4 linked regions of the Homo sapiens genome follow. Each later gene encodes a partner of the first gene's protein in a complex. Each region holds a gene or a part of one and is shown on either strand. Other genes may lie near its edges. The genes, in order: INTS7, SEM1, INTS2 and INTS1. A codon is read from its position in the direction of its gene.

Region 1 (7,834 bases):
CCACAAGGGTCAAAAAGTTAAAAAATTTAAGATGTTTGTAAGTTTAAAAGTTACAGTAAGCTAAGGTTAATTTATTATTGAAGAAAGTATTTTTTAATCAATTTAATGCAGCCTAAGTATAGAGTGTTTATAAAGTCTACAGTAGTATAATGTCCCAGGTCTTCGTGCTGACTGACTACTCACTCACTGATTCACTCACAGCAACCCCCAGTCCTGCAAGCTCCCATTCATAGTAAGCACCCTCCACAGGTGTTACCATTTTTTATCTTTTATATCCTATTTTTACTGAACCTTTTCTATGTTTAAATACACAAATACTTACCATTGTGTTACAGTTGCCTACGGTATTCAATACAGTAATATGCTACACAGGTTTATAGCCTAGGAAAAATATATAGCTTAGGTGTGTAGTAGTTACACTATCTAGCTTTGTGTTTATACTCTGTGATGTTTGCACAATGATAAAATCACCTAATGATGCATTTCTCAAAATGTTATCTCCATTTATAAGCAATTGGATGACTATATACGCATTTCTAAAACTCACCTGTCTGAAAAACCTGATGTCTCTGAGAAGGTTGAGGTACCACTTTTTCCCTTTCCCTTCATCACTTCCTTTCTTCCACTTTATAAAAGAAAGGCATTCCCGTGCCCCAATCTTAAACCTTGCACTGATCCAAAGAATAAAAACTTTTGGGTATCAAATATTTTTAAATAAAAACAAATAAACTGGTGGAACCTTAACTAAGAGATAATTAAATAATTCCTTCAATAAAGGGACCATAAACACCCAAATTCATCTCTTTAAAAAGATGGACTTCCAATAAAATTTTACTTTTGGTTAATAATTATCAAAATTGGTAATCTATATTGTTTTAATCAATCATATAGTACTAATAATTGAATTGAAAATTCAATCCATAAAGAAGTTTTAATACTTGGAGGCTTATGACAGAAAACAGCAATTTAAACACATTTTTTGACACAGAAGGGTATGACAGAGTGATCAGTAAAAGAGCTTTTCAAGCATAAAATTAAATTACATTAGGAGAAATTCTGTAGGAGAAATGAAATGGAAATAAATTCAAGAGGAAAAAGCAGCTATATGGAATGTCCAGCAGATAAAGAGGAGTTTGTATTTTTCTAAAAAATGGATGATGTGATTATCAAATCACTATAGTATTTAAATTATATTAGATACACTTAAAGGAGTGATATAGCATTTTTATTTTTAAAATGTCAATATTCCCAATATGGTCAGAAATTATATTCTTTGCATTTGTTTAAGTTTATAATAAAAACTTTTAGATATCAATTTAAAAATACACAGAAGAGTAATCAGATTTCCATTTTAGAAGGATCATTAGCAGCAATGTGGAGAATAAACCGAAGACAGACAAACTAGGAGGCCATCTGGGAGACTTCTTACAATCCAGACAAGAAGGCATTAGGGCCCAACCTAGGGAAATGGAATAGTAAAAATAGAACACATCCAGCATACAGTAAAGATGCATAATCATAACAGATAAAGAAGAGAGGATGGATTCAAGAGATTTTAACGAAATGTTTTGAATGTGTAACTGTGAGGAAGATGAAGAAGTCTTTAATTTACTCAGGTTTCTGGCAGGTTTAAATAATGAGGCCACTCTCTAAAATTGGTAATATTGCAGGTTTGGGGGAAAAGCTGAGTTCAGTTTTGGGTATTTGAGTTTGAGATGCTTGTGGGATTGACCGTCTAGGTGCTAATCAACCCACACAGCTTTTATAGAAATGAATCTCAGGTACAGGAAGTCTTCCAATAACATAATTTTGTACAATGTCATTTCGTTATACTGTTCATGAGGAAAAAATCAATTCCTGTTTGAGGCCATTGGCCGTGTGGAGTTTGTACATGCTCTTCCCATGTTCATAGGGGTTTTCTCCAGGTACTCTGGTTTCCTCCCACATGCCAAAGATGTGTATGTTAGGTTCACTGGTGTGTCTACATGGTCCCAGTAGACAATGAGTGTGTGTGAGTGCTTCCTGTGATGAAATAGTGTCTGGTCTAGAGCTGGTTTCCACCTTGTACCATGAGCTGCCAGGATAGGCTCCGGGCACCCACAGCCCTGAGCTGGAATAAGTGTGTCAGAAAATGAATGAATACAAATCATTGTAAAATAAAAATGGGTAAACTTTACAATAATCATACAAATGAATGACAATAAACGATTTGGTATGAAAGGGCTCAGTGAGCTGCCATATTTGTGATTGTTTTTGACCTGGGTGGTGGTAGGAGGTGCTCCTTCCAATTTTCACTTTGCAAACATTTATTCCTTGATTTAGCCCACCACCACTATGACCGAGGTCACTCGCTGATACACCAAAACTTGGATAATTATCTCACCTGTTTTTATTAATCTTTCTCAAATATATGTATAGCACACAATTATTTCAACATTTAATATTAAAAGTACTTTGAGTCTTTCTTTAGAAGTTCGGTGGTGTTTGTGTGACCAAAATATGCCACTGAAACAATTCTTATTTATATCAAGTAGCCTATGGTAGAGTTAGTTTAGTTATACACTGTTTTCCCTAAAGTCACAGTTTCCAAGAGCCTATCTAGACATTAAGTGAGGACTTACTATATAAGTAACAGAAGGTTGTATGTATGTAGAAGTGGAAGAAGCCCTGGTTGTGGCTGTGATCATCCAAAGGAGTAGGTAGAAGAAGAAAAGGGGTCAAGGATGGAACACCAACACTGAAGAGGAAAGGAGATGATTCTATAGATTTCATATAATAACGAATGAATTTCAGTGACTATTATGTAACAACGAATGAGTACTTGAGAATAGGAAAGAGGGAAGGGAAAGGTAAACACATGGAGAATTAGGAGAAAATCTGTCACAAAATAGAGGCTGAACAGCTCCCCCAGAACACACATATAGTAAGGTGTGGAAGTATAATAAAACCCAGGCAGTTTAACTTCAAAGACAGAGTTCTTAGCCACTGTGCGTACTGTCACTCTTAAACAGAGGACAAAGAAGTTACTCAAACAAGGTCCCAGGAGAGACAGAAAGAGGAGCATTTAAGTATAATTACAAAGATTATCTAAGAGGGAAATAAATAAGGATGGTATAAAGTTTCAGACTGCTAGCAGGAAGTTGAGGGACTACTTCTCAGTCTCTTTCTCAATATTATTTTCCTAGACTCATCGCTGAATATAAAAATTCCCTTCTCAGGTTCGTTTTCCACATAGTTTCAAGGGGAAAAAGAACCTCTGGCTATAGTCGACCTTCACATGAGTGAGATTTTATTTCTGTCCAAGGTTAATCTGGGTAGTTAGCTCCCTTATCTGAAACTTACCAAAAAGTTTAAGTTGATGACATCCAAATCTAACCTCAAATCTCTTATTGCCAATGTTTTAGCGTAAGAAAATAAGTTAGATTTCTACGTATTAACATGGGAATACGTTCAACTTATACCATTAAAGTGAAAAAACTGGACGTTTTGATCCGATTTCTGAAAATAATAGGTATTACCTCTAGCGTCGAAAACATCTGGAATAATATACTTCAATCTATTAACAGGGGTCATCTCTGGCGGATGTGGTTACAGGCATCTTTCACTCTATAATTTAAATTTTTATGACCGTGTAGTAAACGGGGAAAATAAGATTTTGTTCCTGTTAGAAGCAGATATCCTGTCTTCTCTGCTTGACTGAGTTCCTTAACAGCGGGTCATATTCACTGGTATATACCTATAGCACATAGCTGGGCTCACTAAGATTCTACAACAAACGAATGAATTAATCAATGATTAGGAGTTTTGAGCATCTCAAATAACCGTTGAAGGAAACATATACACACAAATGCATGCATTTTCCCGTTAACGCGCAATGGAGATGTAAGCTGTAAGGGGCCTTGGAAGGCAGTTATTTCGACGTCCCTGCCTACGTTACGATTTTAAAAGCCCGATTACGATTACAAGTGTCCCGAGGGGATGAAAGTACAGCTTTCTTTAGTAGTCCCTGCTAACACTAATTTACCCTTGCCATGGGAGAACTCAGAAGCTGAGTTCAGAATTGGAGTCGGCCCTGGTCGGAGGTGGCGTGTGTTTCGGGGGAAATGAATTCCGCCAGCTCCGAGCAGCGGTTGGGACCGTTACTCACCATTTCTCAGGACGCCAAGCTGGGGCTGGCGGAGCACCGAATTGAAGAGCATCAGGGTCGGAGGAAAAGCCTCAGCTGAGAGAAAAGTCGTAGAAATGCCTCCAAGTTCAGCAGAAATCGCAGCTTGCGCCTCTCACAACACAAATCGTTATCGCCTCCAACTCCCGCCACTGTAAGCCCCGGCCGCCAAACTCCGCGCCAAACTGACGTCACGCTCTCTGATTGGCTTCCGAGCGACGTCCGGGCGCCTCAGAGTCATTTCCCCCTTCGGATCCCCGCCTCCTTTTCTCCCAGCCGCGGGAACCTGGAGTCCAAGAGCTCCTTGAGCGCCTGCGCAGGGGGTAGCAGAGGCGCGGACAAACCGCGGGGTGACCAGGGCGCATGCGTAACAGGGCTTGACAGCGCGCGGAAGAAAAACCAGCAAGAAGGCGGCGGGGGAAGATGGCGGTCCTGGGGTAGAGTTTGCAAGCTTTCTGACTAGGCTAGTCGAGTAACTATTCGGGTCATGGCGTCAAACTCAACTAAGTCTTTCCTGGCAGATGCCGGCTATGGCGAACAGGAACTGGATGCCAACTCTGCCCTTATGGAATTGGACAAAGGTATTCGAAAGAGAGGGCTGAATGGGTGAAACAGGCGTGGGGGGAAGTGGCGCCACCAGGTGGTGGTTGCTTTGGGAGAAGACGGATAGGCGCATGCGCATGTCTTCGCTGGGCGGGGAGCGCCTGTGCTTTTGCTGGGGCGTGGGCTTTGACCCCTTCGGGAGGTTGCGGGAAATTTGCAGGATTGTGTGACTGGCCTTATACCGGCTAAACAAGTAGCGAGCTCTAGTGAGAGGCCCGTTTTGACCACTTGAGGGAGCAGTCCCCCGATTTTCTAAGCAGTGACAGTGGCTAGTTTCTAAGAGACACTGCAAAGAAATTGTGAAATTGGTTTTCAGTCTGTTCAGTTGAGACCAGGTCTTCATGAAATGTGCTGAATAGTAATCTTGCACCGACTTGACAGCGATTCATTTGATTTCCATAGCTCTGTTACCTGCGGGTTACAAGGCAGGCTAAACCTGGCCAAGACCATAAAAAAGCAAGGGCCCTGCTCATTCTCTGCGGACAAGTTCCAGGAGTTCTGTTGCCGTACAGGGAGCAGCTTGGTGTAGAGGGAGCTTTGGGGTTACACTGAGTTAAGTTTCAATGCCGCTGATTTTATGATTAACTTCATCTAGCCTCGGCTTGTCGTCTGCAAAGTGGGTACAGTACCATTGAGCCGGCAGAATTGTATTAAGTGACTTAATGGTATGCAAAAGAAGCATTTAGTAAATGCTGAAGAGATATACCTCCCTTCTTAGATGTGGATATGGGAGGCAAGGTCGGAAATTTGTTAGTAAAGAACTCGACTAGTAATATGAAACCTTTATTTCATATTGAGGATTTTTATTGTACGGGAAACATTTCGGCAGCTGGTATACAATTAAATCTTGATTAATCGTAGCCAATATATAATGTTGGAGAACTGGACTAGAACTCAGAAGGGTTTGAGCCACTTCCCAGTTTTCTGAGTTGGACATGTCTATTAACTTTTTTGGGACTCTTTTTCTGTTTATTTTTTAAACTGTGAATATTTTTAGTGGGTTAGTCTAAATAAGAGTTTCTCAGGCTCTTAAAAAAGCTTTTACCTTATTTTGATAAACACAAAAATTTCACAGCCCCCTAATGGGATATTCCTTTGGTTGAGTCTCAGTATCTTTAGTGCACCCCCATCAACCAAGAAAATTATGTTGAACTTTTCCTTCTCTTACCAAATCTTTAGGGGTTTTCTCCTCTGAAAAAAAAAAGTATAATACTAAATGTGTTTTTCTCTTTTTTTTTGGAGACAGAGTGTTGCTCTGTTGCCCAGGCTAGAGTGCAGTGGCGCCATCTCGGCTCACTGCAACCTCCGCCTCCCGAGTTCAAACGGTTCTCCTGCCTCAGCCTCCCGAGTAGCTGGAATTACAGGCGCCCGCCACCACGCCCGGCTAATTTTTGTATTTTTAGTATAGACGGGGTTTCACCATGTTGGCCAGGCTGGTCTCCAACTCCTGACCTCAGGTGATCCGTCCGCCTCGGCCTTCCAAAGTGCTGGGATTTACAGGCATGAGCCACCGCGCCCGGCCTTAAATGTGTTTTTCAAACACTTTCCTCCTCATTCTGATACATTTCTTTCTTATTCCTCAGTGAAAGTTACAGGTCAGGATAATATCTAATATCCCTACGAGTTCTAAGGACATTTTCTACCATTCTGGTGCAGCTGAGCTTGTCTCATGCTGACAATAGGATAGTGGTTGTGGAACAGGGATAAAGATGGGGCACTGAAGAGGAGTCTAGAATGGTTTAATTCCTCAAATTTTGCAGTTGTAAGAAAAAAACCACAATTTTTCCTTTTTAAAGAAGAGTTGAAATGAAAATATTTTATATCTATAGGAAAGAAATCAGGTGTCAATCTTAGACACAGAGTAAGTGATCATTTGCACTCCTCCCAGCAATGCCTGGCGTGAGTGTTTTACAGGTGAATCTCAGGCTCAGAAAGATGACTTGTTCTTTTTCATCTCATCTGTAGTAACTTTTAAAGCTGTTAGGAAATTAAGTTATAGAAATAGCCAGTTTCGTGTAGAATATAGTTGAGTATTTTAAATATTGAGTCATTTCATCTTGTACCTGTTAAAGTATTTCTGTTTTGTGAGCTAAAGGTCAGAAGGCTACAAGTTCCAACTCTTTTTTTCGTTCCCAAACTCCAAGGAATACTGTTTCTGAAATATCTCCCCCACCTCAGCATACACACTCAGACACATGACTTATTTGATCGGGCTTTGTACTAGGAACATGGCAGTTAATGAGACAAAACTCCTGCCCCTATAGAGCTTACATTCTAGACAGCAGATGCAGACACTCCGCAAATATAGCAAACGTGACAGTTAGTGATACATATTATAAAGGAAAATGAAGCAATGAAAGGGACTGGAGAAAACTGATCTGGGGCTGGAGTTGATTTCTTATTTTATGAAGTATAGGCAAGAAAGACCTCCTCAATCAAGTGGAAGAACAGCAAGTACAAAGGCCCTGAGGTAGAAGCCTCCTTTGCATGCAGTTATCTGGAGCAAAGTAATAGGCAATGAGTATAGAAAGATAACCAGAGTCAGTCGGGCGTGGTGGTTCACGCCTGTAATCCCCGCACTTTGGGAAGCTGAGGCGGGCGGATCACGAAGTCAGGAGATCGAGACCATCCTGGCTAACATGGTGAAACCCTGTCTCTACTAAACAAAATACAAAAAATTAGCCAGGCGTGGTGGTGGGCACCTGTAGTTCCAGCTACTTGGGAGGCTGAGGCAGGAGAATGGCGTGAACCTGGGAGGCGGGGCTTCCAGTGAGCCGAGATCACACCACTGCACTCCAGTCTGGGCAACAGAGCAAGACTGTCTCGAAAAAAAAAAAAGAAAGATAACCAGAGTCCCGTTCAGGTAGGGCCGTGCAAGCCATCAAAAGGACTGGCTTTCATTCTGAGTGAGAAAGGAAACCATGGAGGATTTTCAGCAGGTGTGTGACATGATCTGACTTTCCTTTGAAAAGTATCAGTCTGGCTACTGTGCTGAGAATAGACTGAAGTGGGGAGGGTCAGGGACCCAAGTAGGGAGACCAATGAGAAGGCAACTATAACAATCCA
Region 2 (7,382 bases), on another chromosome or scaffold:
AGGATTTATTCATTTGACATGTATTTGTTGAGTGTTTCCTATAAATCTGGTACTGAAAAGTACAGAGAGAATGGTATTAGCTGCCATTTATCAGTACTAAGTGCTTTACATACACAGTGTCATTGAGTCTTCATAGCTCTTTGAGGTATAAGTTTTATACCTAGGGATCAGAAAAATTTAATTTACCCAAGGTCACAGTTAATTAGAGGCTGTCTTGAAGCAAATTTGACTTCTATAGATATTTGTCTTTGAACTTAGTAAGTAGTAGTTAAGGGAGAGAAGAATCAGTGGTTTTAACACCAAGCTAGAGTGCTTTAGTATTTTGGAAGTGTTTATCCTGGGGTGGGACTCAAAGCCCTTTTCTCCCTACCACCAATTAAACCATAGCAACATTGCCTTTGTTTCTCTTACCTGTTGGGCTTCTGAGTAAGATGTAATTTGGTTTCCTTCAACTGATAGTAAAGTGCAACAGCAGTTCAAAAGAAACAGATTACTTCCAGTTATGTACAGTGCGAGGTAGCAACCTTTGAACAGGGCTTTCAAAAGAAACGTAGGAAAGGGGTTTTCAAAAGAAGGGAAAAGGTGTAGGTGCTTTGAAGTGAAAAATAAATGTGTATGTATATTGTATTTGCTTATGAAATAGTAGTTGCAAATGCAGGTGGTTTGTGGCCTCAGCATGGAAAGCTTTAAGCCTCTGACCAGTTTGGACTTAATCCTTAATTAACTAGATGAGAAGTGGTTTTTAAAATGTTTTGTTTGTTTTGCTTATGACAGTGATATGTGTAAGTTTCCTTTAGGCAATATGCTGAAACATTAACCCAGCAGAATTAATTTGAAAAGATAGAAAGACTAGAGTCAGGGAGGTTAATTAGCAGATTGTCGAAATAACTCAGGTGAGGACTAAGGGCGAAATAAATTATTATTAGAAATGAAGTGAAGAGAATGATGCCACAACAGTAAGGGAGGTAGAAGTGATGAAGCATTAGCAACTAGTTTGATATGGGGTGTTGAGAATAAGAAGAAATCTGGGGTTGTGATTTTGCCCATGCGTGTCTTAAGAATATGCATGGTGAAGTTGAGATTGGATACCCTTGACTCAGTAATTTGAAGGGTAGATCAGAATGAGGGTACCAAGATGAGATGAATCTAGGGCATAAGGGCTTGGAAAAGATGAGAGTAATGGTTTTTGTAAATTTTATGGAATTAAAATTAAAGCCACAAATCTACCAGGTTCAGGAAGCGAAAGAAAAAACAAATACATTTTTAAAAATTTATGCTGGAGAGGATGTGGAGAAGTAGGAACGCTTTTACACTGTTGGTGGGAGTGTAAATTAGTTCAACCATTGTGGAAGACAATGTGGTGATTCCGCAAGGATCTAGAACTAGAAATAACCATTTGACCCAGCAATCCCATTACTGGGTTATACCCAAAGGATTATAAATCATTCTACTATAAAGACGCATGCACATGAATGTTTATTGAAGCACTATTCACAATAGCAAAGACTTGGAACCGATCCCAATGGCCATCAGTGACGGACTGGTTAAAGAAAAGGTGGCACGTATACGCTGTGCAATACTATACAGCCATAAAAAAGGATGGGTTCTTGTCCTTTTTAGGGACATGGATGAAGCTGGAAACCATCATTGTCAACAAACTAACACAAGAACAGAAAACCTAACACCGCATGTTCTCACTCATAAGTGGAAGTTGAACAATGAGAACACATAGTAGACACAGGAAGGGGAACATCACACACCTGGGCCTGTCGGGGTGGGAAGCAAGGGGAGGGATGGCATTAGGAGAAATACTTAATTCGTGTGGGACTTAAAACCTAGGTGATGGGTTGATGGGTGCAGCAAACCACTGTGGCACATGTATTCCTATGTAACGGACCTGTACATTCTGCACATCTATCCCAGAACTTAAAGTAAAAAAAATCCCAAATCAACAAAGAGAACCAACAAAGTGGAACCATTCTGCCAGACTTATATTTTTTTTAATTGTTGATGAAAATAATTGGGTTTGGATTTCCTTTTTAAAAAATGTAAGAATAGTTATGAATGATTATGAAGTTATTTTGATCCTTTGTTTCAGACTCTGCCACAACTGAAAGCTCACCAACAGCCTGCCAATAAAAACATTGTTTATGACTTGCTTTTTGTTTGAAGTTCTCCACTAACAGTTTTGGTCCTTGTTAGAGAAAATATAGTAGCAAAGTGGTGCCGTGCTACGTATTGATTTCTTAGTCACTGACTAGACATTAGATCTGCAGGGTATACGGGTGTTTGCATTATGATAACCTACAGAAGTGAAATTTTCAAAAAAAATAATTTGTTTCATACACCCTCAGCAGGAACACTTGTAAATTTATCTCAGAATCACTGGATATGGTGTGGCTTCATTATCATACTCATGAGTATAGTGATGCTGTTTGTAAGTATTGCTCTTCTCTTTTACACACACCTAAGATGGTGAATGTTCAATTTAGTATTTTTCTTTTCATGTAATGTTCTGTATATACTTGCATGTTTTGTATTTGAAGAAACTTGGTTGGAGATTAGGTTGTTTATGTTCAGAATACCTTTATTTTTATGGAATAAGAATTCGATACTCTTGAAAATTGGTGTAGAATAGAACATTTGCAACCCTATTTAGTATGAGTGGGATTTCCTTTTTACTTTTCTCAAAAATGCTATATTTCATGCCTTTCAGAAATTTGGAAATGTATGTTGCAGAGTAGGGGAAAGTAAGTATTAAAAGAATTTTCTAAGTTGAAAGAAGATTCTTTTTGTACTTAAATGTCAAGGTGATACTTAGGTGAAGTATGTCTTAGATCTTGGATAGCTCAGATTTTTTAAATTTAAAGCTAGTCACAGATGTAATTCTCAACTAGCCAAAGTGAAGAAAGCCCAATTTGGGACAACGTCTAAAATAAGAATTGCTAGAAACTTATGTATTAGGCATCTGTTACTGGTTATTTCCAATTCTGACTTTTTAAAATGTAGGGTTTTTTTTTTTTTTTAAACCAGTACACATCTGGAGGCATACACATTGAAGCAAATACAGCTGTGGTTATTTACATGATTAATCACAATTCTGGCAATGCATTTAGTGTTTAAGGTAAAGTGTATGCTTTATAAGGCCATCTACATATTGAAGGATGGCATTAGACATGAGGTATATCAGATATCATGGGTATCATTGTTTGGTTATATTTTGTCCTTTTCAAAACTATTTCTGGAGTTAACCCTTTAAAACTGAGTGATTAAAATTGCTTGGTTGTCAGTGTAGTGTTAGAGTTGAAAATTAAAACACAATTCAGAGATCCAAGAAGATGTCAGCTAAACCCAGAGATTACAATAGTTACAGCTTTTTCATGTTATACATTGAGTAGAGTTTGTATGTATTGTAACTTACATATATTGTAACATGTATGTATAGTATAGAGAATTTGTAAGTGTTGGACATACTATTTTGGGGCATTATACCCTATCACATAAGCTTTTTATGTAATATAGTTAAGTACATAATCCAGGTTAATACACTGTTTAAAATATCCATCCAAAATAGATTCTGGTTTGTCAGTGTTAGCACTATTTTTCTTAACAGTGCTCATATTAATTTTAACTGCTTAATAAGTTGTAATAGAAAGGTTATTTCTCAGATTCCTCATCTATGATAATTGGAAGGGTGGTATGCTATTACGTAGACATTAGTGCTTCTTACTGCTTAAGATAATGGTATTAAGGCTACAAAGTTTATCTAGATTTATCAGATAATTAACGAAGAATTTGGCCAGCTCTTTCGTCTTTGTTTACTCAGTAGTGTCATAACTATGAAGTACTGTATAGTAATACGAAAGAACTATAGAGGTATTGTTATGAATCTTTTTTATATGTTCTACCTAAAATGTTGCTCACAGTATTCTTTTTCCCCCTCTTCATGAGCCAGTTCCTTTTTCCTGGGACTTTATCTCTACTTTTTCCTTTCCTTTCCCAGCCATTAAAATAGGGTGAGATGGTTATTAGACGAGGGAGAGATGCTTTATCTTTGTTGTAAATGATCATCAGAGTTTAACTTTATAAACTAAAAAAATTGTACCATTCTTAAATATTTTTCCCCTCTCTAAGTTAAAAGAAGTAAAGTCAACTTGAAGACATCACTTAATAACTATTGAAATAACATTTTGAATCAAATCATAATTAGATGAAAAATTTTGTTTCTTAAAAGATAGTTGCTTTAAAAGATAAGGCTCTACAGTATTTTTCAAAGACTTACAAGGTTAGCAGAAAAGTGTAAAATATTATTTTATATTTCTGGCTTGAATCTTTTGACACATGATTATTTCCTTTTTAGGGACCAATGCAGATGGAAGCGACCTACTTAACAGTTTAGGAAGCTGGTTATTTGGAAGTGGTTCAAGCTGAGTAGAATCTGCTTGTTGTCTTAGAACCTTGAAACAGTTCTGTTGTGATTTTGAGTTATGTCACCCCCTTTACTCAAGAACATAGTATCTAGTCTTTATTTAAATTATTTTTTTGTAACATAAAACTCCATTAGACATCTTTATAAAGACTCCTTAAAATAACTATCAAATAGATAATTTCTATTTCCAGGCTCAACCCACATAGCATATTTAAAGCTTGAGATTTGAGGTTAGAGAATAGTGGTAATACGTACGTACTTTCTCACCATTCTAAACAAAAGCTGAAATCTCAATCTAAACCTCCCCTCTACCACTACCAAAGGGAGGAAGAAAATCTAGAAAACTAAAAACTACAATATTCTTCTTTATGCATATTTATGTTTATTCTTCCTTTAAAAATATAAATTTTGTATCAGTTGTATTAGGCAGATACTAGTGGTGGCTTACAGTTTGGTCTACTTTTAAATATTTGTATATAAGTTATCCTTACGTTTTGCAGTTTTGAATTTCACACTGGTATCTTCCTGCCATTCAACTTGCTTTAGGGTTGTTGGTGTTGTGTTTTGAAAGATTGTGAAGTCGACCTTCTAAAAATGAGTTCAAAGAAAAATCAGTAAAGTAAATATCCTCCTGAAATTGTAAGTTTCTTGGCAAGTAGAATTTTTTGTATTAACTTCTGTTTTAGGTTATCTGCAAACTCAAGAATTGAGAGAACTAGACAGCATAAGCTCAGATTTAAGGAAGATACCATTTTTCATAGATATGGTTTTAGCTGTTTTTGAATTGTGAGTGTTCAGTAGCAAGCTTTTCAAAGTTTTTGTAATTGTGGAAATAATGTATGAGAAATATTTAGACAGCATCTGTTTCTATTTTTAGACTGGGCTGGCTTAGATGAAGATGAAGATGCACATGTCTGGGAGGATAATTGGGATGATGACAATGTAGAGGATGACTTCTCTAATCAGTTACGGTAAGTTTTAAGCCAGATTTTTATTGTAGTTCAGTATTAATTATAAGCATGGAATATGTAATTTACATAGATGATTAACCTCTTAAAAGCTACTTAATCTTTGAAATAGGTTTTTGAACTGTGTAAAGTAAGACATATTGTCTTCATCTCCTGTGATTCTAAACATGAACACTTTGTGTAATTGCATACAACTTTTATTCTTTCTGGTCTTTTTACAAAGGTAGTAAAATAGAAGCATATTTGCTATTTCTTATCCTTAGGAATTTAATTCTGTCAATGTTAATTTTCTACCAATATCAAATAACTCAGCAGAAATTAGAATCATAGAGTGCTGGGACCTAATAGATTGGTGATTCTCAAACTGGAATGGAGATTGGGGTTGTGAGAATGTACTGTGTCATATTCATGTATAAATCTACCTGATTTCATTTATTTATTGAGGTAAAATTCATGTAACATAAAATTAAGCATTTGAAAGTGTACAGTTCAGTGGCTTCTAGTACATCCTCAATATTGTGCAACCATCATCTCTATTTAGTTCCAGTATTTTCAGCATCCCAAAAGGAAACACAGTACTTGTTAAGCAGTCATTCCACGTTCTTTCTTGCCCTAATCCCTGGCCGCTGCTGATCTGCTTTCTATCTCTAAGTATTTGCCTGTTTTGGAAGCTTCATATAAATGAAATCATACAATATTGTGACCTTGCGTGCGTACCTTTTTTCACTTAGCATAATGTTTTCAAGGTTCATTCATGTTGTACCATGCATCAGTACTTCATTCCTTTTTATGGCTGAATAATATTCATATACATGTTCCATATTGTATATTCCAATTTATAATAATACTATATGGATATGCCACGTTTTATACATTCATCAGTTGATGGACATTCAGACTGTTTCCACCTTTTAGCTATTGTGGATAGTGCTGCTATGAACGTACGTGTACATATATTTGAGTACCTGTTTTCAATTCTTTTGAAAAGAAATTTTATATATATATATATACACACACACACACACACACACACACACACAAGTGGAATTGTTGGGTCATACGTTAATTCTATATTTAACTTTTTGAGGAGCTGCCAAGCTGTTTTCTACAGCAGTTGAACAATTTATGTTCTCACTAGCGTTCGTACTAGCAGGGTGTGAAGGTTTCAGTCTCTCCACATCCTTGCCAAAACTTATTTTTCTTTTTTGTTTTAAATTATAGCCGTATTTTAATCTATTTTTTCTTTTGTTATTTGTGCTTTTGGTGTCATATTTAAGAATTCATTGGCAAATTCAATGTAATGAAGATTTATCTTTGTTTTCTTCTAAGAGCTTTATAGTTTTTGCTCTTACATGTCAGTCTTTGCTTTGGGTTAATTTTTGTATATGTTATGAAATAGGGCTTCAGCTCATTCTTCTGCATATAGATGTCTAGTCTTTCCAGCACCATTTGTTGAAGAGACTTTTTTCCCTCCTAATTTTATTTTGATTCAGGCTGTATTTATTTGTCTTGGCTACAAGAATAAATAGACTGTCATATACTTTGCTCAAGTAAAGATATAGAAGATATATGTATTCCAGTCTTCTAATTTACTAGTCTAGTAAGCTTGTTCAAACAGAAAGTGAAATAGTTTATAATAAATTTTTAAACTTTGATTTCTAATAGTAATGCAGTAGCACCAGCTCCTACACTGCATTTTTTTTTATTGGCTCTATAAAGACTTAGAATTTTGCTGGAGACTGATAATAATTTTACCTATCTACTTTTTTTCTCATTTTTAGAAATAGTATAATTTACCTTTCACTGTTATACTGATACTTCTACAGTTTTTCATTTCCGTGTCTCAAATATTGCTGACTGATTTTTGACTACATCTTTTGGTTCTTCTAGTACCCTGAGATGTAATTATCCAGAGCCTTGAGATTTTAAACTGCCTTAATGCAGTTATCTTACCTGTCTTAGTTTTCAATTTTGTCTTAATTATG
Region 3 (7,382 bases), on another chromosome or scaffold:
ACTGTTGGCAATTATGAACAAGGTGCATTTCTTTTAACCACAGCTCAAAGTATGCATGATTTGATGTCTATGTATAGGGAGGTAGACAGAAAAAGAGACAAGAAGTCAGGCAGGTTGAATTCTCCTCTACTCTTATTTTGTTCTTTTTTTTTGGAGACGGAGTTTCATTCTTATTGCCCAAGCTGGAATGCAGTGGTGTGATCTCAGCTCACTGTAATCTCTGTCTCCCAGATTCAAACGGTTCTCCTGCCTCAGCTTCATGAGTAGCTGGGATTACAGGTGCCCGCCACCACGCCCAGCTAATTTTTTGTATTTTTAGTAGAAATGGGGTTTCACCATGTTGACCAGGCTGGCCAGGCTGGTCTCGAACTCCTGAACTCAGGTGATCCACCCGCCTCAGCCTCCCAAAGTGTTGGGATTACAGGCATGGGTCACCGTGCCCGGCCTTCTCTACTTTTATTTCTATATATTTGTTTTCCTTTCAAAGCCTGAAAGGATATTATAAGTCTGCCTTAAAGTCCTTCTCTTAATTATCATTTTCTCTCATTTATACTTGTTCTGCATTTTCTATGAGAGGGATTTTTTTCCGTATGGAATCCATACACAGTGGCTTCTTGACATTTAGAAAGGGATTTATCTCAAGGCTTGTACAGATTATCAAATTTATTAGCAGATAATACCTTTATGGGATACAATTTCTCCCATAAAGTGTAATGAAGTAACATTTTCAATAACTGAATGTGAATAACTGAAAAATGTATGTGATTCATTTAGACACTGGATGAGCAGTAACAGCCTCATATATGACAGCAGAGGGGAGTATCAATGCTGAATTGAATGTAGGATGATTGGCTAGTCTCAATCACTAAATGACCAAAGTGCTTCTTTACACTAATGAAAGCTATTCAAGTTATCTTCTTTGTAAAATTATAGATTACTTAGGTCATAGACCTTTGGGTAATATAGTTAATTGAAACTCTGAATTTAAAATTTTTGAATGTCAAAGTTCTATCATATAAATAACTAAATTAGCTGGGCGTGGTGGTGCACGCCTGTAATCCCAGCACTTTGGGAGGCCGAGGTGGGCGGATCACCTGAGGTTGGGAGTTCAAGACCAGCCTGACCAACATGGAGAAACCCCGTTTCTACTAAAAAATACAAAATTAGCCAGGAGTGGTGGTGCATGCCTGTAAAAGAATTGCTTGAACCTGGGAGGTGGAGGTTGTGGTGAGCCGAGATTGTGCCATTGCACTCCAGCCTAGGCAACAAGAGTAAAACTGCCTCAAAAACAACAACCACCACCACCACAAAAACCCACTAAATTAGATCTTTATGTTTATTTACTGTTATAATTTTGGGGAGTCAGTTAATTTATAGTAAATAAAGTTTAGTTTTATAAATTGTGGACAAAAAGAGAAAGGACTAAATTCTGTTTTCATAGAAAATACTGGTAGAGAGGATTTTGGTGAGTTTTAGATAGTTTTTTTTTTTTTTTTTTTTTTTTTGGAGACAGAGTCTCACTCTGTCGCCCAGGCTGGAGTGCAGTGGCACAATCTCGGCTCACTGCAAGCTCCGCCTCCCGGGTTCACACCATTCTCCTGTCTCAGCCTCCCGAGTAGCTGGGACTACAGGTGCCCGCCACCATGCCTGGCTAATCTTTTGTATTTTTAGTAGAGACGGGGTTTCACCGTGTTAGCCAGGATGGTCTCGATCTCCTGATCTCGTGATCCGCCCTCCTTGGCCTCCCAAAGTGCTGGGATTACAGGCACGAGCCACTGCGCCCGGCCGAGTTTTAGACAGTTTTTAAGGTATGTTAAAAAATTTTTCTAAAATTTCCATCACCAATTATAATTTCCTTCTCTTTTTTACTATTTTGATACTTTTATTTATTTTTGTTTGTTTTTTTGAGACAGAGTTTCGCTCTTGTTGCCCAGGTTGGAGTGCAATGGTGTGATCTTGCTCACTGCAACCTTTGCCTCCTGGGTTAAAGCGATTCTCCTGCCTCAGCCTCCTGAGTAGCTAGAATTACAGGCACCCGCCACCATGCCTGCTAATTTTTGTATTTTTAGTAGAGACGGGGTTTCACCATGTTAGCCAGGCTGGTCTCGAACTCCTGACCTCAGGTGATCCTCCCACCTCGGCCTCCCAAAGTTCTGAGATTACAGGCATGAGCCACCATGCCCAGCCTATTTTGATACTTTTAAATTTCAGCCAAGAGTTTTCCTTCATCTTTTCCGTAATACCTCACTTGGTGACTCTAATAAATAAGTGACCTTTCTCCTCTGGGAGATTTCCAATTTTTTAGTTTGGCACTCTTCATTATATAGGAAATATGGTTATGAAACTATTGTGCAGAATTTCCAAAAAGCTTAGTAGATTTTGTTATCTAAACTTTAATTCTTTGTTTTTCCAACAGTTTATTCAGAATTGAACACGTATATATATATATATATATATATATATATATATATGTTTGTTTGTTTTCTTTTTTCTTTTTCTTTTTTTTTTTTTTTTTGAGACGGAGTCTCATTCTGTCTCCCAGTGTGGAGTGCAGTGGTGCTATCTCGGCTCACTGCAGCCTCCACCTCCCGGGTTCAAGCGATTCTCCTGCCTCAGCCTCCTGAGTAGCTAAGATTACAGATGGCCACCATGCTTGGCTAATTTTTATATTTTTAGTAGAGACAGGGTTTCACCATGTTGGCCAGGCTGGTCTCGAACTCCTGACCTCAGTTGATCCACCCATCTTGGCCTTCCAAAGTGCTGGGATTACAGGCGTCAGCCACTGCACCTGGCCATGAATTTATATTTGTTAAACTGCTTTAGGTTGACTGTTCTTGGCTTTTTTAAAGCAGTTTATGTAGGCTGCATTTGTAGTTCATTTCTTTGGCTTGCCTTATCCTTTAATTCCAGTTGTCTCCAAATATTTAGATAGAAATCAGTTCTTGAGATTGATACTGCTATATCTGAATAATAATTAACATGACTGCTGTGTGTGGTTAAATTGGTTGAAATTGATTGAATACTGCATATTCTGCTGTGGTATATTAGTGATACATTAAGAGACATAATCTGTGAGCTCAAGAAATAATTATAAAAATAGGGATTTAATTATCTGAAATTAATAGAGTTTATATCTTTTTTTTTTCTTTTTTAAGGTGTCTGAGTCCAACGGAGAATTTTTTTTCAAGTCTTCTGAACTTTTTGAGAGTCCAGTATATTTGGAGGAAGCTGCAGATGTACTTTGTATTTTACAAGCAGGTACTGTACTGAGTGCTAAGATGGATTTCATATATAGTTTCTTGTTAAATGATACTGTGTAACTTCTTAGCCTGGTATGCTGTGTTATTTTAGGGATCATATAACAAACATGTTATGTGATTTTAAGTCAAAAGTGACTAATAGTTGGACAATGATTAAGTAAATTATATTATTTTCATAGTGTGACATATTATGCAGACATTAACATGGTATCTTTGATTTAATGACTTTAATGCTCGTTAATGATTTTGGAAAATGTTTACAATATGTTAAGTGAAAAAAGCAAAGGGCAAAGTGTTAAGTAGACTATAATCCCAGTTTTGTTAAAAGTTCAAGAACAATACCCTTGATGAATTAAAATAAAATACTTATTTTTTTTTAGAGACAGAGTCTTGCTCTGTTGCTCAGGCTGGAGTACAGTGGCAGGATCATAGCCCACTGGCTTGAATTCCTGGACTCAAGGGATCCTCCCACTTCAGCCTTCTGAGTAGCTGGGACTACAGGCCTGTGAAAACATTTTTTATTAACTTTGAATTCTGGGATTAGGGCAGATTTTAATTTTCTTCTTCGTACCTTTTTGTATTTTCCAGATTGTATATAATAGGTGTGAATGATAGAAATAAAAGAGGACAGAAAAATGTAAAGAAGGCTGTCGCTCATGCCTGTAATCCCAGCACTTTGGGAGGCCGAGGCAGGAGGATCACTTGAGCTCAAGAGTTCAAGACCAGTCTGGGCAACATAGTGAGACCTTGTCTCTACCAAAATGAAAAAAATTAGCCTAGTGTGGTGGTGTATACCTGTAGTCCCAGCTGCATGGGAAGCTGAGGCAGGAGGATGGCTTGAGCCTGGGAGATTGAGGCTGTAGTGAGCCATGATTGTGCCATTGCACTCTGTCCAGAGTGAGACCTTGTCTTTTTTTTTTGAGATGGAGTCTCACTCTGTCACCCAGGCTGGAGTGCAGTGGTGTGATCTCGGCTCACTGCAACCTCCGCCTCCGGGGTTCAAGTGATTCTCCTTCCTTAGCCTCCTGAGTAGCTGGGATTACAGGCATGCGGCACCATGCCCAGCTAATTTTGTATTTTTAGTGGCGACGAGGTTTCACCATGTTGGCCAGGCTGGTCTCGAATTCTTAACCTTGTGATCTGCCTGCCTCAGCTTCCCAAAATGCTGGGATTATAGGCATAAGCCACTGTGCCTGGCTGCAGACCTTTTCTTAAAAAAAAAAAAAAAAAAAAAAAGTATAGGCCAGGCACGGTGGCTCACGCCTGTAATCCCAGCATTTTGGGAGGCCGAGGTGGGTGGATCACCTGAGGTCAGGAGTTGGAGACCAGCCAGGTCAACATGGTGAAACCCTGTCTCTACTAAAAATACAAAAATTAGCCTGGTGTGGTGGCAGGCTTCTGTAATCCCAGGTATTCGGGCGGCTGAGGCAGGAGAATCGCTTGAACTCTGGAGGCGGAGGTTGCGGTGAGCTGAGATTGCGCCATTGCATTCCAGCCTGGGGGACAAAAGCGAGACTTCGTCGCAAAAAAAAAAAAAAAAAAGCAAATAAGATTTTCGTGAAAATAACTCTTTAGACCAGTTCTATAAAATAAAATTTCCTGTACTGTTCTATGCTATGCTGTCCAGTGTTCTTTGTGGCTGTGGATTACTTGAAATGTGGCTAGTGTGATTGAGGAACTGAACTGTTTTTAATATAAGTATCCTTATGTTGCTAGTGGGTATCCTACTGGACAGCTTGGTTCTAGACTATGAAAAGAAAGTACTTTATTTTAGATGACATTTGTGAAATGTCAAAAGATATTTAATAATACAATGAAATGTCATTTTTGGTTGGGCATGGTGGCTCATGCCTGTAATTCTAGGAGTTTAGGAGGCTGAGGCAGGAGGATTGCTTGAGCCCAGGAGGTTGAGGCTGCAGTGAGCTATAATCACACCACTGCACTGTAGCCTGGGCAACAAAGCAAGACCCTGTCTTAAAGAAGAAAAAAAGAAATATCACTCTTTAACACTGGGTCCAGGCATGGTGGCTTATGCCTGTAATCTTAGCACTTTGGGAGGCTGAGGCTGGAGGATCACTTGAGGCCAAAGTTTGAGACCCACCTGGGCAACACAGTGAGATTCAGTCTCCACAGAAAATAAAAAAAATTAGCTGGGTGTGGTGGAGTGCACCTGTTAACAAAGACTAACACTGACTTTGTTTTCTTGTAGAGCTCCCTTCCTTGCTCCCTATAGTTGATGTAGCTGAAGCTTTGCTACATGTTAGAAATGGTGCCTGGTTCTTGTGTCTCTTGGTGGCCAATGTTCCTGATAGTTTTAATGAAGGTAAATATGATTCTAATATGGTATATTGAAAAGACTTGCTTGGACATGTACAGGACCTATCTTTTTGACCTAAGAAGAAACATTAATGGGATTTTATTTGAGATTTTATCTTTTGAAAGTTTGTTAGTATGTATAAAGAAATATTGAGTTCACAAATTGTATTGAGTTTAAAGATCAGGCTGGGCGCAGTGGCTCACACCTGTAATCCCAGCACTTTGGGAGGCCGAGGCGGGCAGATCACAAGGTCAGAAGTTTGAGACCAGCCTGGCCACTATGGTGAAACCCCATCTCTACTAAAAATACAAAAATTAGCTGGATGTGGTGGTGGGTGCCTGTAGTCCCAGCTACTGGGGAGGCTGAGGCAGAAGAATCGCTTGAACCTGGGAGGTGGAGGTTGCAGTGAGTCGAGATCGCACCACTGCACTCCGGCCTGGGCGACAGGGCGAGACTCCGTCTCAAAAAAAAAAAAAAAAAAACCCCAAGGAACTAGAAGATGTAATATCTATAATCAGGGATCAAAGAAGATACATGTATCAGTGAAATATCAAGAGAGCAATACGGGATATGTATAATGAGAAATGCTAGGAATCAGACCTTTGTTTTTTAGCCCTACTGCTGTCAGTTTACAGAGAAGTATAAAGTAGAAATTGAGAAAAATCGACTACATTTTTTCACCTCTATTTAAAACTTACAGTGATTGAAGGTTGTTGTTTGGGTATGAGTGATATAAAAATAAAAACATTTTGTTGAGCAAGGTAGTTTGTGAATTAGGAGCCTGGGAGGAAAAAGTACTGGAGTTATAATTCCTGATTTTGTCATTCACTTATTGTGTGAGCTCTATCAAAATACTTCTCATCTGGCTGGGCACGGTGGCTCATGCCTGTAATCCCAGCACTTGGGGAGGCCGAGGTGGGTGCATCATTTCAGGCCAGGAGTTTGAGACCAGCCTGGCCAACATAGTGAAACCCCGTCTCTACTAAAAATACAAAAATTAGCTGGGCTTGGTGGTGGATGCCTGTAATCTCAGCTACTCAGGAGGCTGAGACAGGAGAATTGCTTCAATCTGTGAGGTGGAGGTTGCAGCGAGCCGATATGTGCCACTGCACTCCAGCCTGGGCAACAGAGTGAGACTCTGTCTTAAACAAACAAACAAACCAAAATACTTCTCATCTGTAAAATGGAGATATTGATAGTGTAATAGTTCCCTGACTTTTTTAAGAGATTTATTGAATATCAGATGATATGTAAAAACTCTTTGTAAACTGTGTCCTTGCCGATTTTTTGTCAACTTGTTCTGTCAATTACTGAGAGAGGAGTTTTGATGTCTCCAGACATAATTGTGGATTTGCCTATTTCTTCTTTTTGTTCTGTCAGTTTTTGCTTCATGTATTTCAAAGCTCTTTTGTTGGGTTTATATGCATTTAGGATGATTATATCTTTATGATGAATTGAGCCTTTTTTTCATTATAAAATATACTTTTTTCCCCAAGTCAAATTTGATTTCTTTATTCTTAGTTTTCACATTTATAGTTATATCCCCCTTTCTAAACATTATTTACATATTATTCAATTTGTTGTCACCTTTGTTTTAATTTTTCTTTTTAAAAAAATTCGAAGTTTTATTTTAGATTCAGGGGGGTACATGTGCAGGTTTGTTACATGGGTATATTGTATGACACTGAGGTTTGGAGTTTGAATGATCCCGTCACCCAGGTTATGAGCATAGTACCCAATAGGTAGTTTCTCAGCCCTTGTCCCCTTTCTTCCTCCCCACTGGTAGTCCCAGTGTCCATTGTTCC
Region 4 (7,382 bases), on another chromosome or scaffold:
ACAGGGCAGTGCACACTTGCTGATGCCACCTGAGAGGGGCCCCCACAGAAACTCTCAGCCTGTCTTTGGGCAGCATTTGCCTCTGGCCAGCATGCACGTTCCTGTTCAGAGTCTTGAGATCCCTGTGGACCTGAGCGAGACCTGGGGTCCTTGGGGAACACAGAGCCCAGGTCTGAGCTCTTCCTCCTGGGTGACAGTCCCCGGGCAGGACTCGCCATGGCTTGTACAGTTCCCACCGCTGGAAGCAGGTCAGAAAGTGTCCAGCCACTGACAGTTCTCCTGTCTCTGCAGACAGCACAGAGGCACCCAAACCAAAGAGCAGCCCAGAGCAGCCCATAGGCCAGGGCCGGATTCGGGTGGGGACCCAGCTCCGGGTGCTGGGCCCTGAGGACGACCTGGCTGGCATGTTCCTCCAGGTAGCGTTGCTGCTGCATGTGGGTCTCCACCTGCAGCCCCTCTTCCTGCGTGCAGCCTTCGCTGCCGCCTCGCACGCACAGCGGCCTTTACTTGCGTGACCGCCTGACCCAGGCACGCTGCACACGCACAGCGGCCTTTACACGCGTGACCGCCTGACCCTGGCACGCTGCTTTCACGTAACACCCCCATGCTCTCAGATGGAGGCTAGGCCAACATTGGGGAAGGGGGTCGCCCTGCATCCTCCCTGCCATCCTTGCACACCCCTCTGCGCGGGGCACCCGGTTTGATGTGTACAGAAGCTGAGGTTGCAGGTCTCGCCTGAGGTCTGGCTGTTGGAGCCGGGGATCCTGCAGGCCTCACCACCTCCTGATGGAGAGCCTGGTGGTCCCTGGGCAGGCTCTGGACACCTTTGTTCTCTGGGGCAGCTCCTGGGTGTTGGGGTCCCTCACTGCTTCACATCACAGGTCTCAAGGGCCCTGGGCCCCTCAGGCCACAAGGTGGGGGCTACGAATGAACAGGGACACGATGGGACGCGGTTCTGGCACGGAGCTGCACCGGGCGCTTAGCCTCTCCGCTGCGCTCCTCCTCCTTCTCCTCCGCTTCCTCCTGACACTGGCCTTCCCCGTTCCAGATTTTCCCGCTCAGCCCGGACCCTCGGTGGCAGAGCTCCAGTCCCCGCCCCGTGGCCCTCGCCCTGCAGCAGGCCCTGGGCCAGGAGCTGGCCCGCGTCGTCCAGGGCAGCCCCGAGGTGCCGGGCATCACGGTGCGTGTCCTGCAGGCCCTCGCCACCCTGCTCAGCTCCCCACACGGCGGTGCCCTGGTGATGTCCATGCACCGTAGCCACTTCCTGGCCTGCCCGCTGCTGCGCCAGCTCTGCCAGTACCAGGTACTTGGGCGTGGGCCTCTTGCGGGGGAGGAGGGCAGTGAGGGCTCTGCCTCCCGCAGGACGGCCCGGGTGTCCTGTGACTGCTCCTCTGTGGGTCTTGGGTCTCAGTTTCCAAGTGAGAAAGGACAGTGCCCCAGGGAGTGGCGGCAGGTCCCCTTTTTCCAGTGAACATTCCCCCGGGACGGGAGGTGGGGGCAGTGCGGCGTCCGCCTGTTTGCACCACCCAGGCTCGGCGCTCCTGCCTTGCTTTCCCCATCTGCTGGTACCTAGGACTGTGTTTTACTTGGTGTCTGTGTTTACTTTTTCCTTTGAACCGCGTGGGAGCCCTCACCAGCTGGGGGGTTTTGAAAGGGTCTCTGTGAGGTCGTCTGGGCCCGTGCAGGGGAGGCACCGTTTCAGACAGGAGGCGGGATGAGGTTGGCCCAGGCTCCAAGTGCCGGTCGCGGCAGGTCTCAGCAGCCTCACGGGCCCTGCTCTGGGCCTCGGGTGCCGGGTCCCCGTGTGTCCTCTGCCAGGGTAGCCACGTGCCACTTTGTCCCCGCAGCGCTGTGTGCCACAGGACACCGGCTTCTCCTCGCTCTTCCTGAAGGTGCTCCTGCAGATGCTGCAGTGGCTGGACAGCCCTGGCGTGGAGGGCGGGCCCCTGCGGGCACAGCTCAGGATGCTTGCCAGCCAGGCCTCAGCCGGGCGCAGGCTCAGTGATGGTGAGGACCGCGCCGGGCTGGCAGACGGCTGGGGGGCACTGGACAGGGGCTCACTCAGAGTGGCCAAGCTGCCTGGCACCCCGAGGCCTGGGCAGTGGCTTGGGGGGTGGGTACCCGCGTGGGCCCAGGGGAGCCCTTCTACCGTGGGGCCTCCCTGGATGGGATACACCGATGGGGTGAGGGCTGGAGCCACAGGGCACTCACACAGACCTCCCACAGTGCGAGGGGGGCTCCTGCGCCTGGCCGAGGCCCTGGCCTTCCGTCAGGACCTGGAGGTGGTCAGCTCCACCGTCCGTGCCGTCATCGCCACCCTGAGGTCTGGGGAGCAGTGCAGCGTGGAGCCGGACCTGATCAGCAAAGGTACCTTCCTGGCACCATCCTCTTGGGCCACGGCGGCCCTGGGAAGACCCAAACCTGAGGCTCCTTCTAGCTGCCCAGTGGGGGACGGACAGTGTCTGCTCAGCACTGTCCCCGGAAAGTGCCCACAGAGGTCCCCTCCCAGATGGCTCAGGGCGGGGCCTCTTGAGAATGAGTTGGAGCTTCCTCCTTGGGGGGCCCCTGATCACTGCTGCACCCAGCAAAGTGAGCCCCGGCCCCGGCCGCACTCTCCAGCCCCGGCCGCACTCTCCTCTCCGGCCCCGGCTGCACTCTCCTCTCTGGCTCCGGCTGGACTCTGCTCTTGTGTCCCACACATGCTCACCCCACACCCCACCCTGGCTAGCCCACACCCACTCAGCGGCCCCCACCCGACCTGGGAGTGACCCACATGTCTCTTTGTCCCTTGCGCAGTCCTCCAGGGGCTGATCGAGGTGAGGTCCCCCCACCTGGAGGAGCTGCTGACTGCATTCTTCTCTGCCACTGCGGATGCTGCCTCCCCGTTTCCAGCCTGTAAGCCCGTTGTGGTGGTGAGCTCCCTGCTGCTGCAGGAGGAGGAGCCCCTGGCTGGGGGGAAGCCGGGTGCGGACGGTGGCAGGTGAGCTGGGGTGCTGCACACGGCCAGGGTGGGCAGGCGGGTGGCACCAGCCCTTCCCTGAGCCACCTTCTCCCTGCAGCCTGGAGGCCGTGCGGCTGGGGCCCTCGTCAGGCCTCCTAGTGGACTGGCTGGAAATGCTGGACCCCGAGGTGGTCAGCAGCTGCCCCGACCTGCAGCTCAGGCTGCTCTTCTCCCGGAGGAAGGTGGGTGGCACCCAGCTTCAGCACGGGGACCCACCCCAGGGTAAAGGCTCTTCCTGACCTGAAGTGCAGCAGCCTTGGCCTGGGCGAGCCTTGCAGGGGCCCCAGCACCCCCCCTGCTCTCAGGCCATGTGTCCCTGTAGCAACCCAGAGGAAGGGTAGGTCCCCCAATGGCCCTAGCAGAACCCAGGCCAGGGTCACAGTCACCTGTGGACCAGCACTGTGACCAGCCAGATGTGGGGATGGGGTGGGTGGATGGGGTGGGGTCGGCCCTGCCAAACCCTGTAGATCATGTAGGGGCCTCCATCTTCCCAAAGGGAATGGGGCTGTGGCCAGGAGAAGGGAGGGCAGGTGCTGGGCTCCCCACATCCTCCAGGGAGGGACGGCCTCACCAGAGAGGCTGCATGGAGCCCCGGGCACCTCCGCTGTGTGGCATGGCTCCCGTGGGAAGGGGCGGGGAGATGCAGCGCAGCCACCAGGAGCGGCCCTCCAGCACCATGACGGGGCCGGTGTTACCGGCAGCACCCCAAGCCTCGGCTCTCTGAGTGGCTCATTGGGGAAGCTGTCAGCTGACTTCAGCAGAGCCTGCCATTGGCCCAGGTGAGGCCATCCGGGCTTCTTCCTCCCTCCCCAGGGCAAAGGTCAGGCCCAGGTGCCCTCGTTCCGTCCCTACCTCCTGACCCTCTTCACGCATCAGTCCAGCTGGCCCACACTGCACCAGTGCATCCGAGTCCTGCTGGGCAAGAGCCGGGAACAGAGGTGGGCGCCTCCCTGTCCCCAACCTGGGCTGCGCGCATACTGGCCTTCACCAGAAATCTCCCAGCGCCGGCTCTGACTGGTATCTCCCATGCTGAGACGAGACACCTCGTGCTCTGGAACCTTTGCCTCCCCACAGGTTCGACCCCTCTGCCTCTCTGGACTTCCTCTGGGCCTGCATCCATGTTCCTCGCATCTGGCAGGGGCGGGACCAGCGCACCCCGCAGGCAGGTCTTGGGAGGGTGGCCCATCCGGGAGAGGGGGTGGCCCATCCGGGAGAGGGGGTGGCCCATCCGGGAGAGGCGGTGGTGCTCCGGGGCTGATGCAGGCACCCGTTACAGAAGCGGCGGGAGGAGCTGGTGCTGCGGGTCCAGGGCCCGGAGCTCATCAGCCTGGTGGAGCTGATCCTGGCCGAGGCGGAGACGCGGAGCCAGGACGGGGACACAGCCGCCTGCAGCCTCATCCAGGCCCGGCTGCCCCTGCTGCTCAGCTGCTGCTGTGGGGACGATGAGAGTGTCAGGAAGGTGACGGAGCACCTGTCAGGCTGCATCCAGCAGTGGGGAGACAGGTGCTCAGGCCCCCCGGCCCCAGATGCTGCCTGGGAGTGAGCCATGGAGGGGGTCGAGGCCCAGCCCTGGGTGGGTTCCCATCACGCCTGGTCCCGTCCACCCACCCCTGTCACTGGGGCCCCGTCCGCCTGGTGAGCCCTGCTCCACCTCTTCCAGCGTGCTGGGCAGGCGCTGCCGAGACCTTCTCCTGCAGCTCTACCTACAGCGGCCGGAGCTGCGGGTGCCCGTGCCTGAGGTCCTACTGCACAGCGAAGGGGCTGCCAGCAGCAGCGTCTGCAAGGTGAGGGCGCAACTCTGCCGCTCCCCGCCGCCGTCCCAGGTGCCCTGGCCGGGCAGGGAGGGAGGGCGGAGGCCACAGTGTACATGGCCATCGCCGGCTACCCCTCTTGCCCCTTCCCAGTCCGCGCCGCCCTGTGGCCCTGTGGGTTTGTCTGCGTTGAGTTTTATACCGAGGGAGCTTGCGGGTGCTCTGCTCGCACAGTCTGGAGAGTCGTGGTGTTGTGGGCACTGGGTGGCCTGCCATTGTGTGGATCGGCCGTTGGTTTATCTGTTCACCTGCTGGTGGACGTGGGGTCACGTTCAGTTTGGGGCAGTGACAGCTGCTGGGGACTCGTGCCCGGGTCTTGGCGGACGGCTGCGTCTGCTCCTCTCCAGTGACCCTGGTGGGGAGAGCTGGGCCTCCCGTACCCGCTTCCCCACCGCAGGCCGGAACCTGCAGCCTGTCTTCTGCTGGTACCACAGAGGGCAGCTGACTTTCTCTAATCATTTCTGCTTGTGGTTTTTTTCACTTATATGTCATTTTATTTGTTGAAATCACACTTGATGTGCAGTTTTGTGGAGGGTTTTTGAGGCAGGGTGTCTGTTGCCAAGGCTGGAGTGCAGCGGTACCATCATAGCTCACTGCAGCCTCAACCCCCTGTGCTCAAGTGAGCCTCCCACCTCAGCCTCCCGAGTAGCTGGGATCACAGGCACGTGCCACCACACCCAGTTACTCTTTTTGTATTTTTGAAAATAGAGAGGGCTATTTTCATTGCCCAGGCTAGTCTTGAACTCCTGGGCTCTGGTGATCTTCTGCCGCGGCCTCACAGAGTGCTGGGATGGCAGGCGTGAGCCACTGCGCCTGCTTGGCCGATGTGTAGTTTTGGCTTGTTTCCCGCTCATTGTATCATTTGGTGTGGAGCTTTGCTTTTATTCTGTATGGGGTTTTCCCAGAGGCTGGCTGTGGCCTGCCTGCCCTCCCGAGGTGCTCATGGAAGCCGTAAGGAGCCAGTTCCTCTGCTCATGGCGTGCCACGCGGTGGATCACGGCCACAGCTGGCGGCCAGGCTGAGTGTGGGTGGGCAAGTGAGGGGAGCCAGCGGCCCCGGCCTCAGAGCGCCCCTCCCTGCAGCTGGACGGACTCATCCACCGCTTCATCACGCTCCTTGCGGACACCAGCGACTCCCGGGCGTTGGAGAACCGAGGGGCGGATGCCAGCATGGCCTGCCGGAAGCTGGCGGTGGCGCACCCGCTGCTGCTGCTCAGGTGCTGTCCCAGAAGCCCTGCCCTCGCCAGACACTGGTTTAACCAGGGGGGTCTGCGGCTCTCCAGCCTGGGCAACAAGAGCAAAACTCCAAAAACAACAAAAAAAAGCATGTTCCCATGGGCTGAGCTTGACCGGGGGAAGTCAGGACTGAGCTGGGCCTCAGGTGGGAGGAGCTGGGTGGGCCTCAGAGAGGGGCGATCTCATCCCCACCTCCTTAGGGCAGGAGGGTGGTTGGGGGGCAGCACGGGGTCTGGCTCCCGGGGCAGGCAGTGGGGCCTTCCTGGGGACGTGCGCCAGGTGAGCCCGCCGGCCGGGGCTGACTGGGCCCTCACCGCGCCCGCAGGCACCTGCCCATGATCGCGGCGCTCCTGCACGGCCGCACCCACCTCAACTTCCAGGAGTTCCGGCAGCAGAACCACCTGAGCTGCTTCCTGCACGTGCTGGGCCTGCTGGAGCTGCTGCAGCCGCACGTGTTCCGCAGCGAGCACCAGGGGGCGCTGTGGGACTGCCTTCTGTCCTTCATCCGCCTGCTGCTGGTGTGTGCTCCCGCCGCCCGCCCTCGCGCTCCCTTCCACTCCCTCTGCTCTGGCCCAGGCCTGCCTCACCCACTCGCGGAGGGACTGGGAGGACCTCTGCAGCCAGGGCCCAGGCCAGGCCACCTGCCCTGGGGACCAGCTCCCACCCTGGGAAGCCCCTGCCTGCTGCCCCTCACGTGCCTGGGGGGCCCACGTCCTTCAGAAGCCCAGCCCAGACCCTCCGTGCTGTTCTCTGCGTGTCGCTTGTGCTACCTCGAGCCCCTCATCCATCTGGGCACATGCCCCAGACAGCCATGTCCACACCCTGACAGGCCATGCCGGCCACCCTTGGGCCTGTGACGCCCCAGTGGTTGGCAGAGGGGGCTCGTTGGCTGTGGGGTCCATGCCCTGAGGCTCTGGGAGCAGATGGGAGCACAGGCTCTGTTTTGGCCCTGCGGGGCAGAGCAGCTCGAGGGTGCCGCTTTTGCTTTGCAGAATTACAGGAAGTCCTCCCGCCATCTGGCTGCCTTCATCAACAAGTTTGTGCAGTTCATCCATAAGTACATTACCTACAATGCCCCAGCAGCCATCTCCTTCCTGCAGAAGCACGCCGACCCGCTCCAGTGAGTGCCCACGGGCTGCAGGGAAGCCTCGGGCCTCCGGCGAGGGTCCAGCGGGGTCTGGAGGGTGTTCCTGGGAAGGCCGTGTCGTGTCAGATATGCTGCTCCTGAGGCCGGGGAGGGCTGCTGAGCGTGGTGCTCATCCCAGGGCGCAGAGGCCGCCCCACCCTGTGCCGAAGCCGTCTGAACCCACCCCTGCAGCTCTCTGGCTCTCTGTC

What was found.
Region 2: the proteins of INTS7 (region 1) and SEM1 are in contact, whole or in part, in a cryo-EM structure (PDB 8YJB), measured with the Homo sapiens proteins. Residues at the interface, in NP_056249.1 of Homo sapiens: Lys410, Leu413, Asn414, Val417, Leu448, His451, Cys452, Ala454, Ala455, Met458, Glu488, Val491, Thr495, Leu517, Glu518, Ser521, Asn522, Gly523, Trp524, Val526, Tyr527, Arg528, Arg531, Gln532, Arg535, Ser548, Leu549, Thr551, Gln552, Val553; in NP_006295.1 of Homo sapiens: Ala36 (codon at 5,336), His37 (codon at 5,339), Val38 (codon at 5,342), Trp39 (codon at 5,345), Glu40 (codon at 5,348), Asp41 (codon at 5,351), Asn42 (codon at 5,354), Trp43 (codon at 5,357), Asp44 (codon at 5,360), Val48 (codon at 5,372), Glu49 (codon at 5,375), Asp50 (codon at 5,378), Phe52 (codon at 5,384), Ser53 (codon at 5,387), Gln55 (codon at 5,393), Leu56 (codon at 5,396), Arg57, Glu59, Leu60, Glu61, His63, Gly64, Tyr65, Lys66, Met67.
Region 3: the proteins of INTS7 (region 1) and INTS2 are in contact, whole or in part, in a cryo-EM structure (PDB 8RC4), measured with the Homo sapiens proteins. Residues at the interface, in NP_056249.1 of Homo sapiens: Leu38, Gly39, Glu40, Cys42, Glu43, Val46, Arg47, Asn77, Phe78, Leu81, Cys82, Leu84, Lys85, Gln88, Gln89, Asn114, Asp115, Pro116, Val117, Ala120, Ile121, Arg124, Val153, Glu156, Val159, Phe160, Ala163, Leu195, Lys196, Pro199; in NP_065799.2 of Homo sapiens: Gln27, Lys28, Val29, Cys48, Arg51, Met52, Cys55, Ala56, Ala58, Asp59, Gln60, Ser61, Trp64, Phe92, His93, Ala186, Glu187, Pro189, Ile194, Val218, Asp220, Ser221, Asn223, Glu224, Ser259, Leu262, Lys263, Arg265, His285, Gly294.
Region 4: the proteins of INTS7 (region 1) and INTS1 are in contact, whole or in part, in a cryo-EM structure (PDB 8RC4), measured with the Homo sapiens proteins. Residues at the interface, in NP_056249.1 of Homo sapiens: His150, Asp151, Leu187, Ala188, Thr189, Pro190, Val191, Lys194, Thr223, Ser224, Tyr225, Pro226, Ser227, Thr228, Asn262, Asp263, Pro264, Arg265, Lys266, Pro303, Tyr304, Gln349, Glu350, Cys352, Tyr353, His354, Asn355, Arg357, Ala360, Gln384; in NP_001073922.2 of Homo sapiens: Leu1378 (codon at 1,106), Gln1381 (codon at 1,115), Gln1382 (codon at 1,118), Gly1385 (codon at 1,127), Gln1386 (codon at 1,130), Ala1389 (codon at 1,139), His1429 (codon at 1,259), Phe1430 (codon at 1,262), Leu1431 (codon at 1,265), Cys1433 (codon at 1,271), Pro1434 (codon at 1,274), Arg1437 (codon at 1,283), Gln1438 (codon at 1,286), Cys1440 (codon at 1,292), Gln1441 (codon at 1,295), Pro1476 (codon at 1,944), Ala1479 (codon at 1,953), Gln1480 (codon at 1,956), Met1483 (codon at 1,965), Leu1484 (codon at 1,968), Gln1487 (codon at 1,977), Arg1552 (codon at 2,820), Pro1554 (codon at 2,826), His1555 (codon at 2,829), Leu1556 (codon at 2,832), Glu1557 (codon at 2,835), Glu1558 (codon at 2,838), Pro1613 (codon at 3,082), Ser1614 (codon at 3,085), Gly1616 (codon at 3,091).

What each region holds. Positions count from the first base shown.
Region 1 is NC_000001.11:212,032,256-212,040,089, reverse strand, and holds the start of INTS7 (integrator complex subunit 7), read left to right. Parts: upstream 1-4,532; 5' UTR 4,533-4,652; coding exon 4,653-4,746; intron 4,747-7,834. Other genes in the region: DTL (denticleless protein homolog), read right to left, coding at 4,148-4,199. UniProt on the Homo sapiens protein: Component of the integrator complex, a multiprotein complex that terminates RNA polymerase II (Pol II) transcription in the promoter-proximal region of genes.
Region 2 is NC_000007.14:96,692,816-96,700,197, reverse strand, and holds part of SEM1 (26S proteasome complex subunit SEM1), read left to right. Parts: intron 1-5,306; coding exon 5,307-5,400; intron 5,401-7,382. UniProt on the Homo sapiens protein: Component of the 26S proteasome, a multiprotein complex involved in the ATP-dependent degradation of ubiquitinated proteins.
Region 3 is NC_000017.11:61,917,601-61,924,982, reverse strand, and holds part of INTS2 (integrator complex subunit 2), read left to right. Parts: coding exon 1-22; intron 23-3,155; coding exon 3,156-3,258; intron 3,259-5,469; coding exon 5,470-5,583; intron 5,584-7,382. UniProt on the Homo sapiens protein: Component of the integrator complex, a multiprotein complex that terminates RNA polymerase II (Pol II) transcription in the promoter-proximal region of genes.
Region 4 is NC_000007.14:1,473,351-1,480,732, reverse strand, and holds part of INTS1 (integrator complex subunit 1), read left to right. Parts: intron 1-291; coding exon 292-416; intron 417-1,048; coding exon 1,049-1,303; intron 1,304-1,847; coding exon 1,848-2,007; intron 2,008-2,226; coding exon 2,227-2,367; intron 2,368-2,796; coding exon 2,797-2,980; intron 2,981-3,059; coding exon 3,060-3,183; intron 3,184-3,814; coding exon 3,815-3,939; intron 3,940-4,075; coding exon 4,076-4,163; intron 4,164-4,277; coding exon 4,278-4,504; intron 4,505-4,661; coding exon 4,662-4,785; intron 4,786-5,894; coding exon 5,895-6,028; intron 6,029-6,372; coding exon 6,373-6,565; intron 6,566-7,039; coding exon 7,040-7,167; intron 7,168-7,382. UniProt on the Homo sapiens protein: Component of the integrator complex, a multiprotein complex that terminates RNA polymerase II (Pol II) transcription in the promoter-proximal region of genes.